Regions from separate parts of the Homo sapiens genome. Here region 1 is linked to region 2. Evidence: fine-mapped expression QTL. Tissue or cell type: whole blood. Region 2 holds a variant in brackets; the other region holds the start of a gene. All regions are shown on one strand. Distances are between the middles of the regions.

The links. PIP is the estimated chance that this variant, and not a neighbour inherited with it, causes the effect.
Region 1: C6orf163 starts here. The variant in region 2 is fine-mapped to the expression of C6orf163 in whole blood (TOPMed, PIP above 0.99). The same link has a PIP of 0.9 or more in unexposed skin.

What each region holds. Positions count from the first base shown.
Region 1 is chr6:87,339,935-87,348,119 of GRCh38, reverse strand. C6orf163 (chromosome 6 open reading frame 163) reads right to left here and starts at 3,307. Exons shown (of 5, transcript NM_001010868.3): 1 at 2,873-3,307. The coding sequence starts at 3,020. It overlaps SMIM8 (small integral membrane protein 8), which reads right to left. Exons shown (of 4, transcript NM_001042493.3): 4 at 5,791-8,004. The coding sequence ends at 7,846.
Region 2 is chr6:87,361,268-87,369,452 of GRCh38, reverse strand. It overlaps C6orf163 (chromosome 6 open reading frame 163), which reads right to left. Exons shown (of 5, transcript NM_001010868.3): 5 at 3,990-4,492. The coding sequence ends at 4,057. Among named protein-coding and RNA genes, the nearest start is that of C6orf163, 21 kb to the right of the region's middle. The variant G/A (reference allele first, on the strand shown) is at 4,049.

The DNA of each region.
Region 1 (8,185 bases), 21 kb after region 2:
GCAGTGTCGCCATTTCGGCTCACTGCAACCTCCGCCTCCCGTTTCAAGTGATTCTCCTGCCTCAGCCTCCCGAGTAGCTGGAATTACAGGCGCCCACCACCATGCCTGACTAATTTTTGTATTTTTAGTAGAAACGGGCTTTCACCATGTTGGTCAGGCTGGTCTCGAACTCTTGACCTCAAGTGATCTGCCCACTTCGGCCTCCCAAAGTGCTAGGATTACAGGCGTGAGCCACCATGCCTGGTCTTCCTCTGGGATTTCTAAGCTGAAGGTAATAGATTCTTAGAGCTATCTGGATCCACATTCCTCCTTTCCCAGCTGCCGGAGTAAGTCTAGCTGCAGCAGTAAACCATTAAGCCAACTCACTAAAAGGGTAAGCATGGACAGATTGAAAGCCTTGATGCCAGATTTCCCTTGGGTTTCTCTGTTAAAAGAGTCAAGAAATTCCATTTCATGCAGTCTATTCTGAGTTATGTTTCTGTCACTAGCAATTAAAAGTATATGTTTGGCGGCACAGAGTCTCCTACTAGTTCATCAGCGAATCTTAAAAACACAGGGCAGCATATATTACGGTGGAGATGGACACATACTGCAAAAGCCCAACATTGTGTAGAAATAATTAGAAAAGATTTTCTAGGACAAAATGTGACTAAGCATGGACCATCAACGTATTGAACTTCATAAAAATGTGATACAAGTGTAGGCTATCACTATCCTCTTTTATGTTTAAATCCCATTGGTTTTATTAGTTGTTCTCAACCCTGATTGTACAACAGGATCCCTGCAAAGCTTTTTTTAAAAATGCACATACTGTAAAAGGAACAAACTATTGATAAACAACTTGGATGAATCTCAAGGGCATTGTGCTGAGTGAAGAAAGCCAATCTCAATGGGTTACATAATCTATGATTCTTTAGATAGCATTCTCAGTGATAAAATTATAGTGATAGAGAACAGATTAGTGGTTGTCAGGGGTTCAAGTTTGGGGAGAAGAGAGTGACAGCTAAGGGGTAACACGAGGGAGTTCCTTTGTGGTGATGGAACAGCTCCATGTTGTGATTGTGGTGATGGCACATTAATATACACACATGATAAATTTCATAAAACTCTATGCCGGGGGAAAAAAGTGTACATAAGGTCTGTACCTGAGTTAATAGTATTGTTTCAATGCCAGTGTTCCAGCTTTGACAAAGTGCCAGGATTATGTAAGATATCAATGGAAGCTGGATGAAGGGTACAGGGGAACTCTGATCTATTTTGCAACTTGTGAGTCTTAAACTATCTTGAAATAAAAAAGGTTATTTAAACGTGAAGGAAAAAATACACATGCTTAGTCCTGACCGTAGAGGTCCTAATTTAGTGGCTCTGTGTTAGATTAGTATTAAATCCAGTGGGTCTGTGTTTGGATATCTGTATTAATATTTTTTTTCAAAGTTCTATATAGTGCACTGCCAGGATTGAGAACTATCGTCCTATGAAATACTCACTAGCTCTTCTACGGACATTTCAAAATGCTTATAAAGAACAGACAATTTCAACTTTCTTTCTTTTTTAACTTAAAACAGTTCAATGACAAAGGTCACTGAATAGAAAAGATTAATTTCTAACAATAGATTTAACTTATCCACTTAAGGTTTGGGTTAGATATTCCATAAGGCATAAGGAATCAATCATTAAGGTATATCTAAGAATGGAGATACACTGTCCTGGGTATGAAAAGTCACTTTAGAGATCATAATGAATCATTCATACTAAGCACTTACTAAATGCTAAGAAACAATTTTGGAATTGATGTTTTTAGAAGATGATTCCAATTTGATCTCCCCCTACATTTTAGTTTTTTTTTCCAAACACCTCTGCTCTCCAGCTTCTTATATTTTCAAATATCAGGAGTGAAATGAAATCACCCTTAGTTTACCATTTTAAAGGAAGAGAGGATCAGAGAAGTATTGTGAGAGTTCTTAGGAAAATACCTACAAGGCTCAAGGTCAGACTGAAAACTCTTACGGGGATAAAAGAGAGATGGAAACCTATAGTACAATTTGATTTGCTTATTATATATACATACGTATGTACAGTAAACGTCCTCATGTTATCTATATGTATCTACTTTTATGCTACCAGCTACTATTTAAAGGTTATATAGTTTCTTTTACCCATTTATTAGGGTACTTTAAAATTTTTTTTTTTTTTTTTTTTTTTTGAGGCAGAGTCTCGCTCTGTCACCCAGGCTAGAGTGCAGTAGCACGATCTCAGCTCACTGCAACCTCCACCTCCTGGGTTCAAGCAATTTTCTTACCTCAGCCTCCCGAGTAGCTGGGATTACAGGCGCATGCCACCATGCCTGCTTAAATTTTTTTAGTAGAGACGGGGTTTCGCCATGTTGGCCAGGCTGGTCTTGAACTCTTGGCCTCAAGTGATCTGCCCACCTCGACCACCCAAAGTGCTGGGATTACAGGTGTGAGCCACTGTGCCCATCCAATTAGGGTGTTATTTAGAGATAATATTTCCTCTCCTACACATACTGAAAGGTGCTCAAGTATGGCCAAGGGCAAAATGAACTCACATTTACTATTATGTGCCAGGATTTATAATAGATACAAATACTTCATTAAAGTCTCATAACAACCTGTAAGATAGGTATTAGTATATTTATTTCCACATAAGGAAACAGATTGAGAGGCTAAATACCCTGCCCAATACATACAACTGTAAGTGGAGAAGCTGTATTCCAACCCATATTCTCCTCAAATATCCCTGTAGGGACAAGCAACTCTGAAGAGAAAAAAGCTGATAAAAGTCTATGTAACAGAAAGAATGACACATAAGGCTATGAAGCATTAGAACAAAGGAAAACGATAAAGTCACTTACCTAGTATGTCTTTGTGAGTGTAAAAGCGTGTCTTAAGTGGCTTGTATTCATGGATCCGTTTGAAGGTTTTTCCAAAAGGGGCTGGTGGAATTATTTTATTACAAACAGCACAGCAAACAAAGTTTTTGTAATCTGAATTTCTGATCATAGTTAAATTTCAGATGTCTTCTCCTACTTACAGTTAAAATAATCTTAGAATCAGAAAAAGTCGTTTCAAGAAAAGCTGAAAGTTTAAGAAAGCTGGAAGAGGTTCAGGGTTTTAGGATAATGCTAGAGGCTGGTAAGGATTAAATGGTTCAAGTGATTAGGCTGTGGTTATGTGTCTAACGTTAAAGAATGGTGCTAAAAGCCCCTGCCATAGAAGGTATGGGCACCAGATTTGGGAAGATTTAAGTAGTTGCTCCTTCCCAGACTCTAGCATTAAGTTGTTAACTTACTTGGCAACTGTTGCTAGGTAAGACAAGCTTTGCTCATAAAAGCAACTTCAAATAATGACAAAAGGGAGCATGATACAGCCATTCATTTTCCTGATACTTTCTATATTAGTTTCCTATTGCTGCTGTCTTACTCTGTTTTCTGTTGCTTATAATAGAATACCTGAAACTGGATAGCTTATAAAGAAAATGAAATTATTTCTTACAGTTTATGGAGGCTGAGAAGTCCAAGGTGGAGGAGTTGCATCAGGTAAGAATCTTCTTGGTGGTGGGAACTCACTGAAGATTCCTGAGGTGGTATAGGGTATGACATGGCCAGGGGCTGAGCTCACATGCTAGCTCAGGCCTCTCTTCCTCTTCTTATAAAACCACCAGTTCTCCTCCCATGATAATCCATCAATCCCTTAACCCATGAATGAATTCACTCACCCCTTAAAGGCCCCACTTCTCAATACTACCACGTTGGGGATTAAAGTTCAACATGAGTTTTGCAGGGGACAAATATTCAAACCATAGCACCACTGTGACAAACTACACAAACTTCATAGTTTAAATGTAACACAAATTTATCCTCTTGCATTTCTGGAGATCAGAAGTCTAAAATGAGTCTTAGGGGCTAAAATCAAGTTGTTAGAAGGGCTGGTTCCTTCTGCAGGCTTCAGAGGAGAATGTGTTTGCTTGCCTTTTCCAGCTTCTAAAGGCCATCCATATTCCTTGGGGTCATGGCCTTGCATCATATAGCCTTTTCCCCCAGTGCTTCCATAGTGACATTGTCTCTTCCTCTGATCTTCTGCCGTGCTTTAAAGACCTTGGTGATTATACCAGCCCCATCTAGATAATCCAGGATAATCTCCCCATCTCAAAATCCTAAACTTACCCATATCCGTAAAGTCCCATATTTACAGGTTCCAGAGATTAGGATCTGGACATTTTTGCAGGGAAGGAGAGCATTAGTCAGCCTACCACACTTTGTTTTAAATTAGTTTTTAAAGAATTAATTTCTTTTAAGGCCAGCAATGGAGGTAGCTTAATTTCTTTTAGGTTTTTAATAAACATGATGTGTTGGTGCCATGGTAATAAAACTGGGAAATATCATGGTATCTTGAAGAAGAAATTACTTTCATTAAGGCAGCATTCAAAATTACTAAGCCTGGTTTTAAAAATCACATGGTTAACTAATTTGTTCCTATAATTTTAGATAAACAGCCATAGAAATTCCACCTATCGCAAAAATCTGTGCAACTGATTGTACCAAGTAACTGAATTTATAAAATTGCCTGACAATGTCATATGCTGCATCTACTTGGCAGGACTATTTTATAATAAGTGAGTGCCATCAGTGAAATTAATTTCAACAACAGGACTCCCATAGGGCCCTGAGCTAAGTGTACCACAAGTTACTCTATAATTTATATTAACACATACGGCCTGATAACTGGCTGAAGACCTTAAGTAACTATCAAATTGTGCCAGATTTGACTTCAAGAAAAGGGTTAACTGGGACTTGGAGAGGAATTAAAAACAAAGAGATGAATTAGTATGAAGAATGAGGATTACTGCATCCACACAGTTAATTATCTGGATTGAGAACTGAGGCTACTTGTGCCAATAACTTTCCTATCTGTTACTAGAAATTCTTGCCCAGATGGAAGGATAACTAACTGGCCTTGATTTGCCTGGGACTGTCCCTGTTTTAAAACTGAAAGTCCTGAACTTCCTTAGTGTCTGGCAAATTGGAAGAGTTGGGCCTCCTATGGAAGATAAGGCTGTAAAACCAATAAATACTTTCAGTGTTTGCCTTAGGAAATCCTTGAAAAACAATTTATCAATTGGACAGCTTGCTGATCTAGGCAAACAGCTCTTCCATCAGAAGATTAGACTACTCCCCTGGGCAAAGAGTTCACTTAACATTTATTGAACAATAGTTTACTAATCAAGACTTGCTTCAAGATCTAATCTGTTCTGTCAGGTACCTTGCCCATTCTCAACCAGATTCCTGCATTGAAAGACCCTTCTTTAATCACTTGAACTCAGACTTCCAAAAGACTTTAATATCTTCCCCTGACCATCCCATTCTTAAATACAGCTAACTTTGTAAAAGTGGTATTTCCCTTTAGTGCAGTAGATTTAATAAGCTTAGTTTTGTTTGATCATCAGGTTGTTCTGATGGTCTTGTGAGGGAGCTGGCAGTTAACAGTCCTTTACATAATTCTGTTTTAAAGTACAGGAGTGTTTCTCTACTTAAGATCTAAACTTCTTATTTTTAAGGGCTAATGTGGCTGCTTTATTATTATGTGCACATTTACACATAGAAGGTGGTATAGTATGGTGAAAAGATCCCTAGACTTTAGAGCAAGAAGATACAGGTTCTACTCCTGACTGAGAATCTCCCTGATCTTTGGTAAATCTCTTAGCCATTCTCAGCCTATTGTCTTAACCATAAACTGACAGGATTGGATCAGGTGAAGTTCAATGTTCAGAATCTTTGGACTATTTGAAAGGTATTTTATTTTTGATGGTTATACCCTCATTCAACAAAGAAAGGATGAAAACATCAACACATAGGCAGGCAGCTGTTGACACTCAGCACACACAAAGACTGTCCTACAACTTGTAGTCACTCTGTAAAAAGTATCATAGTCAGGTACTTGTTCCTAAAATTCAGTATGATTCTTTCCACACACTACTTTTCACAGCTTTGTGCTTGACTGACTCTAGTTACTTTGGTTCATTCACATAGATCTTACATGACTCAAGTCTGCACCTTGTACAGTTTCTGTTGCCCTCCTGCACTGCAATCTCTTGACAGTTCACGCAACTAATAACTCCTCTGCCACCAAACATCAGCTTATTCTGTTGAATAGTAAAAAATTCTAAAAGATGGCAATGTGTCATTAAATGCATAAGTTAAAAACAGAAGAACCCTAGTTTTGTGATAGCCAAAATACACAGGGAAAACAAAAACAAAAGAGTCTTTAAAAGGGATTTTGTATCACTGAAGTGCATTTTAAACTATATGAAGTACATTATACAGACAGGCATAGCAAATACATATTTGGGGCTCAGTAGTAAAGATTTTATTTAGTTTCATGTAAATTCAATTAGCTAAGTTCTTTAATACCTACAAATCACACATAATTACATTTTCATGTACCTTACAAAACCATAATAAAGTATGACAAATTAAAAATAACATTATGATAAACTCTGCCTGTGCTGTTATTATTACTTGGTAATATTAATAGCGACTGAAGCAAGACTTCAGAGGTAAGATTTACTACTGAGGCCCAATGACAATGATTTGGAGAATTAGGTATATATCTAGAAATGAAACGGGTCCAGAACCCTTGTAAGAAAGATTTGAATTCTATAAGGCAGAATCTGGCCAGACACAGGGGCCTAGCCTTGACCTCTGTCCTAGGCCCCTGGGCCAGGTGCCAGGACAACCAAGGCCATTCTGCTTCTCACCTCCAGTGGGTACTGACCGTAGGGCTAGGCTTTGTTTACACTCATTTTTACCCCCATTTCTGTCCCCACTTCCATAAAAGACACTTCAAAATGCTGATGCTTCAGAGAATAAGAAACATTCTGAAAAGGAAAAAAACAAAAAGGCCTGCTGGCATATAAACTTCAAAAGAAAAAAAAGGTACAATAAGGAGACCTTATCTATTCCTTATCCATTGAGTAGTTGTAGTTTTTAAATAACTATAAGAACACTTGGTCTTATGTTTATAACATTACAGTAACATTAATTAACACAAATTAACATAAACAAAATTAATTAACATTAATTAACATAAACACTAAAATAGATAACATTTAGTTGTAGTCAAAATCATCATACCTCAGTAAAACATACTTTTTTTTTTTTTTTAAAGAAAAACTCCAATTACTCTGGGATATTCTTAATCCTTATTTTAGTAGCTGAGTGGAAGGATCTTTTCCATTAAAATAAAATTCTGTCCCAAAAATAGCTAAAATGGAAACTGAAATATATGAACCATTTGTGACACTATAAAAACTACTTGTCAGAGCCAACTCAGTTTCTCATATCTCATATTTTTAATATTGACTTCAGGCCTTAAAATTTCTATTTATCTTTCTTTAAAAATATAGGTTCTATGCCAGGGAGAACATGAACATTTCCTTTGCAAGTAGCAAAACACAAGTAAACTTTCACGACAGCTGCACCGGCATAATTCATCTTAAAATATTTAAAACATCATGCAAATTTAACAGCATGGGTACTTTTATTATACAGAATTTAATAATTAACAAAAACAACTTCCATTCTCATGGCACTTTTATAAGAGGTAAGGAAAGAAAAATATTATGACGCTCACTCTGTGGAAAAAGAATGAGATAATGGCTGCAGCTGTGAAAGGACAAAATTTACGACAGTTGTCTGGTTGCAACTGCTATCTTCTCTCTTCATTAGCATGTTCTAGAACAAGAAACATGATACTGTACACTCACAAGGTCTTTCATTTGAAGATTTCAGAACCTTTAATAAAGGTCCATCTGCACTAACCAGCACTACTAATCCCATTTGGATGTTTTCCGCCTCATATAACTGTGCCCCTCACTATCAATAGCTTCATAGAGGTCCTTTTTATTCTCTTGTATTGCATGTAGATAACCAATATATGCCACGCAAAGTGAAAGAGTTACCAATCCGAAAGCCATTACAGGTTTGTTCTGTCAAAGAAAAAAAAATTATAAAGCTTTAGTAAGACTAACAATTTGAGGAGACCCAAATATCGGTTGCACTTTCCTCCTGACATGCCACATCTTTATTACAACACTAGCATTACCATGGCAATATTTCAATTAAAATCATTTATTCAGTTCTTTATTCAATTAGCTAAGCTACTGATTA
Region 2 (8,185 bases):
GTATACCTTAGGGCATGGCTTCAGAGGATGCAAGCCCCAAGCCCTGGCAGCTTTCACATGGTGTTGAGTCTGCAGGTGCACAGAAATCAAGAATTGAGGTTTGGGAACCTTCACCTAGATTTCAGAGGATGTATGGAAACGCCTGGATGTCCAGGCAGAAGTTTGCTGCAGGGGCAGGGCCCTCATGGAGAACCTCTGCTAGGGCAGTGCAGAAGGGAAATGTGGAGTTGAAGCCCCCATACACAGAGTCCCCACTGGGGCACTGCCCAGTGGAGCTGTGAGAAGAGGGCCACATCCTCCAGACCCCAGAATGGTAAATCCACAGACAGCTTGCACTGTGAACCTGGAAAAGCTGCAGACACTCAACATCAGCCTATGAAAGCAGCCAGGAGGGGGGCTATACCCTGCAAAGCCACAGGGGCTGAACTGCCGAAGGCCATGGGAGCTCACCTCTTATATCAGTGTGACCTGGATGTGAGACATGGAGTCAAAGATGATTTTGGAGCTTTAAGATTTGACTGCCCTGCTGGATTATGGACTTGCATGGAGCCTAAGGCCCCTTTATTTTGGCCAATTTCTCCCATTTGGAATGGCTGTATTTACCCAATGCCTGTACCCCCACTGTATCTAGGAATTAACTAACTTGCTTCTGATTTTATGGGCTCATAGGCAGAACGGACTTGCCTTGTCTCAGATGAGACTTTGGACTGTGGACTTTTGAGTTAATGCTGAAATAAGACTTTGGGGGACTGTTGGGAAGGCATGATTGGTTTTGAAATGTGAGGACATGAGATTTGGGAGGGGCCAGGGGCAGAATGATATGGTTTGGCTGTGTCCCCACCCAAGTCTCATCTTGAATTGTAGCTCCCATAATTCCCACATATTGTGGGAGGAACTTGGTGGGAGATAATTGAACCATGGGGGCGGTTTCCCCTATACTGTTCTCGTGGTAGTGAATAAGTCTCACGAGATCTGATCGTTTTATAAGGGAAACCCCTTTTACTTGGTTCCCAATTCTCTCTTATCTGCTGCCATATAAGATGTGCCTTTTGCCTTCCGCTATGATTGTAAGGCCTCCCCAGCCACGTGGAACTGTGAGTACATGAAACCTCTTTTTCTTTATAAATTACCCACTCTTTGGTATGTCTTTATCAGCAGTGTGAAAACAGACTAATACAGTTGTCCAAGCTGGAGTGCAGTGGCAGGATCATGGCTCACCGCAGCCTCAACCTCCCAGGCTCAATCAATCTTCCCACCTCAGCCTCTTGAGTAGCTGGAACTACAGGTGCGCACCACCACACTCAGCTAGTTTTTGTACTTTTTGTAAAGACGGGGTTTCACCATGTTGCCCAGGCTAGTCTTGAACTCCTGGGCTCAAGCGATCTGCCCACCTCAGCCTCCTAAAGCACTGGGATTACAGGCGTGAGCCACCATGGCTGGCCTAAAACACACAAGCTTTAAATAAATCAGATGAAATCAGAGTTGGAGAAAGAAACCATCAGAGTGACTTCTTGGTAACATAAAAGTCCAGTGATTACTAAACTGCCCAACTCCTTGTGCTTTGTGACTAGGATGGAGGCTTCTCCATCTGTCCGAGTGATGCTATACATCTGTTTCGTAGTGCGCAAGTTCCTTTACTCCAAAAAGTTCATGTCTTGGTAGCATAAATTCCAGAAAATTAAACTGCAATGATTTCTTAGAGTCCTCAGTCTTAGAGGCCTTCCCAGTTGGCCTCCAGGAGTTAACACAGCTTCCTAATTACCAGAAACCATGTGAACTGCATGCACTCTTACTGTACAGGTAGCATCTAAGACAACTAAGAAAAATGGACTTCTTTAAGTTCTCTTTAAAGTAACTCTCTAAAATGCTTACAACTTTAATAATTTATATGGGGCATAGTATCTAAGATCTATAAAGGCCTCTCTAGGTATTGTACTCAAAGGAAACAGTATCCGGAGAGTTACTGTTCTCTTCTCAAATTATGCTAAAAATTGGTTCACTCAGGGAATCTTTTAAAAAATAGTCTGACTTAATCTCTGTCTCAGTCAAGTTTCAGTAGAAAACCAGGCGTGAGGGTCCCAATGAGAATTCAGAAACATAACTCACTTTCAATTTTCACTTGACTTTGCTATTCTCATCTTGCCACAGGCAATTAGTCTCTCTCCAGAACCCTGAGGGCAAATCTGTCCTTCCTGACATTAGGATGGTGGGAGGGAGCTACAGAGTGTACCCCTCCACACATTCACCCGTGGGGCTTGACATCAGGAGAGTACATCCAGTATGTTCAGAGAAGGGCGTCCAGTTCTGCTCCCCATCATTCTTGGCTCCCTGCCCATGTTTGCTGGAAGGATTAGGGTTCTGAAACCACTTTTGCAAAACTTATGACAGTGAGAGAAATCTAACATAGCAGACTCCATCTTGCTTCTAACCTCACAAGCTTATTGCCCTTGCTCATTCCTGAGTGCAGGCCAAGCTAACCATGGGAGGAATTTATTGTTTAACATTAAAGCGAAGAAGATAACAGCCCCTTCCCAAAACTACCCTCCTCCTAGTTCAGGGACTAAAACCACCTTTGTAAAATGAATGAAAGGCCAAAAGGTTAGAATTATGGGAGGAGCTTGAATTCTGCTAAGACCTATGCATAGTTCAGTGATAACCAGCCATGTTCCCTAGCTTGCTTACTACTCAGGAGTCATGTCGCCAGAGGTCACAAGAGTTGTAACTTTCCCAATTGTTCCTACAGATAACATCACTATTGTAAAACCTAAGATTGTTCTTTGAGATATTTTTCAGATGTTTGCATCCTGATGAACTGACACCACTTGGACCCATGACTCATACCAAGGAAATAAATCAACTGGTCCTGTAACTCCCACCCAGAAGCTGACTCGGCATGCGAAGACAGTTCCAACACTCCTGTGATTTCATCTCCAACCAATCAGTAGCACCCATTCCCCAGCCCCCTGCCTGTCAAATTATCCTTTAAAAACCCTACCCTCTGAGTTCTCAGAGAGGTGGATTTGAGAAATATCTCCCATCTTTTTTTCTTTTACAACTGGCAAATATAGATGAGTCTGTAGCCATACCAGACCCATGTGGCCCAACTTTCACGTAACAAAGTAGTACAGTGTTTTTCAGTTGCCATGGACCCTCAGGTCATGTAATCTGAGCATGCCCAGATGGACCAAGTGTTCAACCACAGAGGGAACCTGATTGCTCTGACTCAGGAGTGGGAACTGAATTAAGAAGTGGACACTGCATGGCAGGATCCAGAATCCAACTGGATTGAGCTTTGGCATCACCCCATGGCAGGATCCAGTTAGATCATGCCTCCTGACATCCCCTCATTGCAAGACCCAGTCAGATCATGCCTCATTACCCTATGTTTATAAAACCTGACCCAGCCCCCAGCTCAGGCAGACACTGCTTTGGGGACTATCCCTGGTGTTCTCCTTACTCCTTATAAGTAATAAAATCCCCTTGCTAAATCTTCTTTGGTTGTGGTCATTGAGTTGACACCCACCAAGTGACTGAACCTGCTTGTTGTGTGGGTAGCAAGTCCTTCCTGAATTACTTTATATGGGAGTCCCAGAATTTAAATTTTATCCTACTGAATTTGAGAGAAATTGCTTTTTTAAATTCACAATGCTACTGCATTCACCAAATGATAAACTGTCTACTGGAACTTAGCACACCTGCCCAAAACAGGAACAACCTAAGAACACTTTCCTTTACTTGTTTTCTATGGCAATAAATGCTGAAATAATTAATTATATGTCTGATGTAGAAATGAATAAAGACAGATACAGAAGTGTGTTTAGGCTTCATCCAAGAAACCTTTCCCCTCTTAATCAGTTTGCTACCTCTCACTATTTTTTCTTCTCAGACTTGGCTCAATATAATCTGGAATGTGCTTTTTAATATTTTGGTTTTCCATGAAAATTCTTATAGCCCAATAGTACCCTGCACAAGGCTGGGGAATCAATACATGGTTTTTGAGTAAATTTATTTAGTCTGGAATGATGTCTTTTGTAGTGGAATTTCAACT[G/A]AAGACTTCTAATCAAGAGTTGTTTTGTTCTCCTTAATAACAAGATTAGAAGGTGTTTTCTTTCTTTCTGGCAGAATAAAATCTGCATGTCCTGGTGAAAGCTTAGGAAAGGTATAATTGATGTATTTTTGAAATGCCATCCTGGTTTCCTGTAATTCCTCCTCTAGGAAATCTTTCCAATTTGTCATGATTCCCAGTTGTTTTGCTATAGACAGCAGCTCCCCCTGGGTGTTAGCCAGTTTATCCATCATATTGCCAAGAGTGGCCTGATGTGTTTTCTCTGCTTCTTGAAGCACTTCCTGTACCTCTTCTTGCCTCTGCCTCTGAGCTATGCCATAGAGGATGCTCATTTCATGTTCTTTTTCCCTCATCAGTCGGGCCACACTGGTCTTCTCATCCTTAATAACTGTGACACCAGTATTCACAATTTCCTCCACGGCTTTGCTACAAAAGATAATATGGATTTATAATTTAGATGGATTGGCCACTAAAAACAAAATAATTTCATCTTTAAACGCAGATGAATGAGCAATTGTTGAGATGAGCCACCAGCCTGAGACAGGCTGATACGGATGAGCTTTTGGATTGCATTAGCTGTTATCAAACAAAACACATTTTCAGAGCAGGGAGGCTTCCTATGTACTTCCCTGCTGTGGGCTAGGGTGAGGCCACTAGTCTAACTTCTAACGGCAACTTTAGGAACCTGAGATCACCTTTTTCAGGAAAATATACATGCATTGTGCTTAAAAATGAGGAGATAAGGGTCAGAGTTCCAAACTCTGTAGAGAAAGTATTTCTTTATATTAATCCAGCTGCTGACCTTTAGCCAGAGATGAAAAATCCTTATACTCACAGGATAGATTTAGCTTTAATCTTGATTTTATCTGAGCAATACTCTATGACAGTCACCTCAAGCTTTTTGGTCTCGGGAGCTCTTTACAGTCTCAAAATTATCGAGGAAGCCAAAGAGCTTTTGTTTATATGAGTTATAGGCATTGACATTAACAGTTATATAAACTAAAAGGGAGACATTTTTAAAATATTAAAAATCTCTTATGAAAAACATTTTCCCAAACAATGAAATATTTCATGAGAAGAATGGTATAATTTAACTTTTTTTTTGAGACAGTGTCTTGCCGTCACCCAGGCTAGAGTGCAATGGCCTGGCCCTGGCTTACTGCAACCTCCAGCTCCCAGGTTCAAGTGATTCACATGCCTCAGCCTCCAGAGTAGCTGGGATTACAGGTGTGCACGACTACACCCAGCTAATTTTTGTATTTTTTAGTAGAGATGGGATTTTACCATGTTGGCCAAGCTGATCTCAAACTCCTGACCTCAAGTGATCCACCCGCCCTGGCCTCCCAAAGTGCTGGGATTACAGGTATAAGCCACTGTACCCAGCCTAATTTTTTTTTTGCACAACTCTTTAATCTCTGGCTTATTAGCAAAAAGCTGAATTTTCATACTGTTTCAATTTATTGTGATATCACACATCACAAAACCCCTGGAGAACACCATTTTATATTCATAGGAGACTAAGAGTGAAAAAGGCAAATAAAGTCTTAGTGTTATGCTGCTATAAAGACACATGCACACGTATGTTTATTGCGGCACTATTCACAATAGCAAAGACTTGGAACCAACCCAAATGTCCAACAATGATAGACTGGATTAAGAAAATGTGGCACATATACACCATGGAATACTATGCAGCCATAAAAAATGATGAGTTCATGTCCTTTGTAGGGACATGGATGAAATTGCAAATCATCATTCTCAGTAAACTATTGCAAGAACAAAAAACCAAACACTGCATATTCTCACTCATAGGTAGGAACTGAACAATGAGAACACATGGACACAGGAAGGGGAACATCACACTCTGGGGACTGTTGTGGGGTGGGGGGAGCGGGGAGGGATAGCTTTAGGAGATATACCTAATGCTAAATGACGAGTTAATGGGTGCAGCACACCAGCATGGCACATGTATACATATGTAACAAACCTGCACATTGTGCACATGTACCCTAAAACTTTAAGTATAATAATAATTTTTTAAAAAATTTGGAAAAAAAAAAAGAAAATAGTTTTAATGTCATGGACTGCCTCTTTAAAGAGTCTCAGGGACCTTGAAGGGTCTCTGGACCACATATTCAGAAGCACTGCTAAATGATTAATATACTTCTGGCTATAATGTAGGGTATTATATAAAATTCATAGCAGCCAACCATGTTGACCTCTTACCATGTCCAAGCAGGTTAATGAGCATTCTATGCATACATTAATTCAATGAATCCTCAAAAACAATTCTGTAGTGTGGTTCCATTACTGTGCTCTTTTTATGAAGAAGACATTGAGCTCAGGGAGGTTAAGTAATTGGACTAAGTTTGTTTAATAAGTTAAAGAGGCAAAATCTGCAACACAACTCAGGCAGTCTGAGACCAGGGCAAAAGCTCTTAGCCACTGTGATACATTTCCAGTGGATTTCTGCAGTTAACATAGTTTGAGCAGAACCTCAAAGATTTGAGGTTTTAAGATCTCAAATGTATGGCTGTTAATAAAAATCCTCCCCCTCTGCCTCCCAGTCTAATACAGGCTTTCCAAGATTTACCACTGGCCCTATCTCCTAAATTCCATCCTCCAAGATGCAATTCTCTCATCTTCTCTGAGTCTTTCCACTTGACTTTCAAACCTGACAGACTTCCCTAGTCTTGAAGTAAATCACATCTTTCTTTAGCCTCCGTAGCCACTATACTATTTCTCTTCTTCCTTTTCCCACCAACTAAGCTATTTCCAATATTAATAACAGGGGTAATGATTATTGAGTACTTACTGTATTGCAGGAACTGTGGTGAGCATTTTACATGCACGATATCTCATTTAATTTTCACAATAACCCATTGAAGCTGATACTTTATTTACTTATTTACAGATGAATCTTGCTCTGTTGTCCAGGCTGGAGTGCAGTGGCACCATCTTGGCTCACTGCAACCTCCGCCTCCCAGGTTCAAGTGATCCTTCTACCTCAGCCTCCCAAGTATCTGGGATTACAAGTGTGCACCCCCACACATGGCTAATTTTTGTATTTTTAGTAGAGGCAGGGTTTCACTATGTTGGCCAGGCTGGTCTTGAACTCCTAACGTTAAGTGATCCACCCGCCTTGGTCTCCCAAATTGCTGGGATTACAGGTGTGAGCCACCGTGCCTGACCTATTTTTACTTATAACCTGTGACTATTCCCTTGTAACAGGTGAGAAATGGAGGCTTAGAGAAGAGTGAGTTGTTGTTCAATGTCACACAACTGAGCACGCTGGGGAGTTCCTGCCCTTAATCATTACCTGCTTCAAGCTCATGAGTGGGCACTATACATTTTTCGTCAGGAGGGTAGCACAGTAAAAATAACATTTTAGACTTGTTATTCAGGTAACAGTGAGTGAACTGAATCTTAGTGGGGTGAGCTAGAGAGACCAATTGTATCATTTCATAATATCCTTGAGGTGCAATGATGAGGGTCTGAACTAATGACAAAAGAGAGGGTTGGGAAGAGGGAGAGAATGGGTTAAGCCTAGGAAATATTAAAAAGTCATAGCTGCCAGAATCTGTGACTGCAAGCATATGGGAGAAGTGGGAAAAAGAGGAATCAAAACCAACTTGCTGATTTTCAACCCGGGTCACAGGAGAATGGAGGTTCCATTAATAGAAGTGATGCTGTGTATAGAGTGGGCAGTGTGCATCGACACACATTCTAAGGATTTAGTCTGATGTCTGATAACATCCTCAGGCTGTTGATGAGATTGTCAGGGTGATGACCAGGGACCAATCTCCAAGGAGGAAGCTGTGCTCCCTGTGTCCTCTGACATAAGCAGGCATGAGTTTCCTGCCAGGTGGGGCTGACTTTCCTCTCACCCAAATGGGAGGTTTCATTTATGGGCTAACTGGAAGGCTCTACCAGAATTGAGTCAGGCAAAAGTGATCCAATAATGTATATCTTGGATGACGCCAGCTCCCACCCTCAATGACAGTCCCTTTCAGACTCCCTGATATCAAAATCTCTTACTGCTAACAGAATCTGGTACTTTAAAAAATCTTTCCAACTTTTCTTTCTTCTTTTTTTTTTGGTTTTAAACAGGGTCCCACT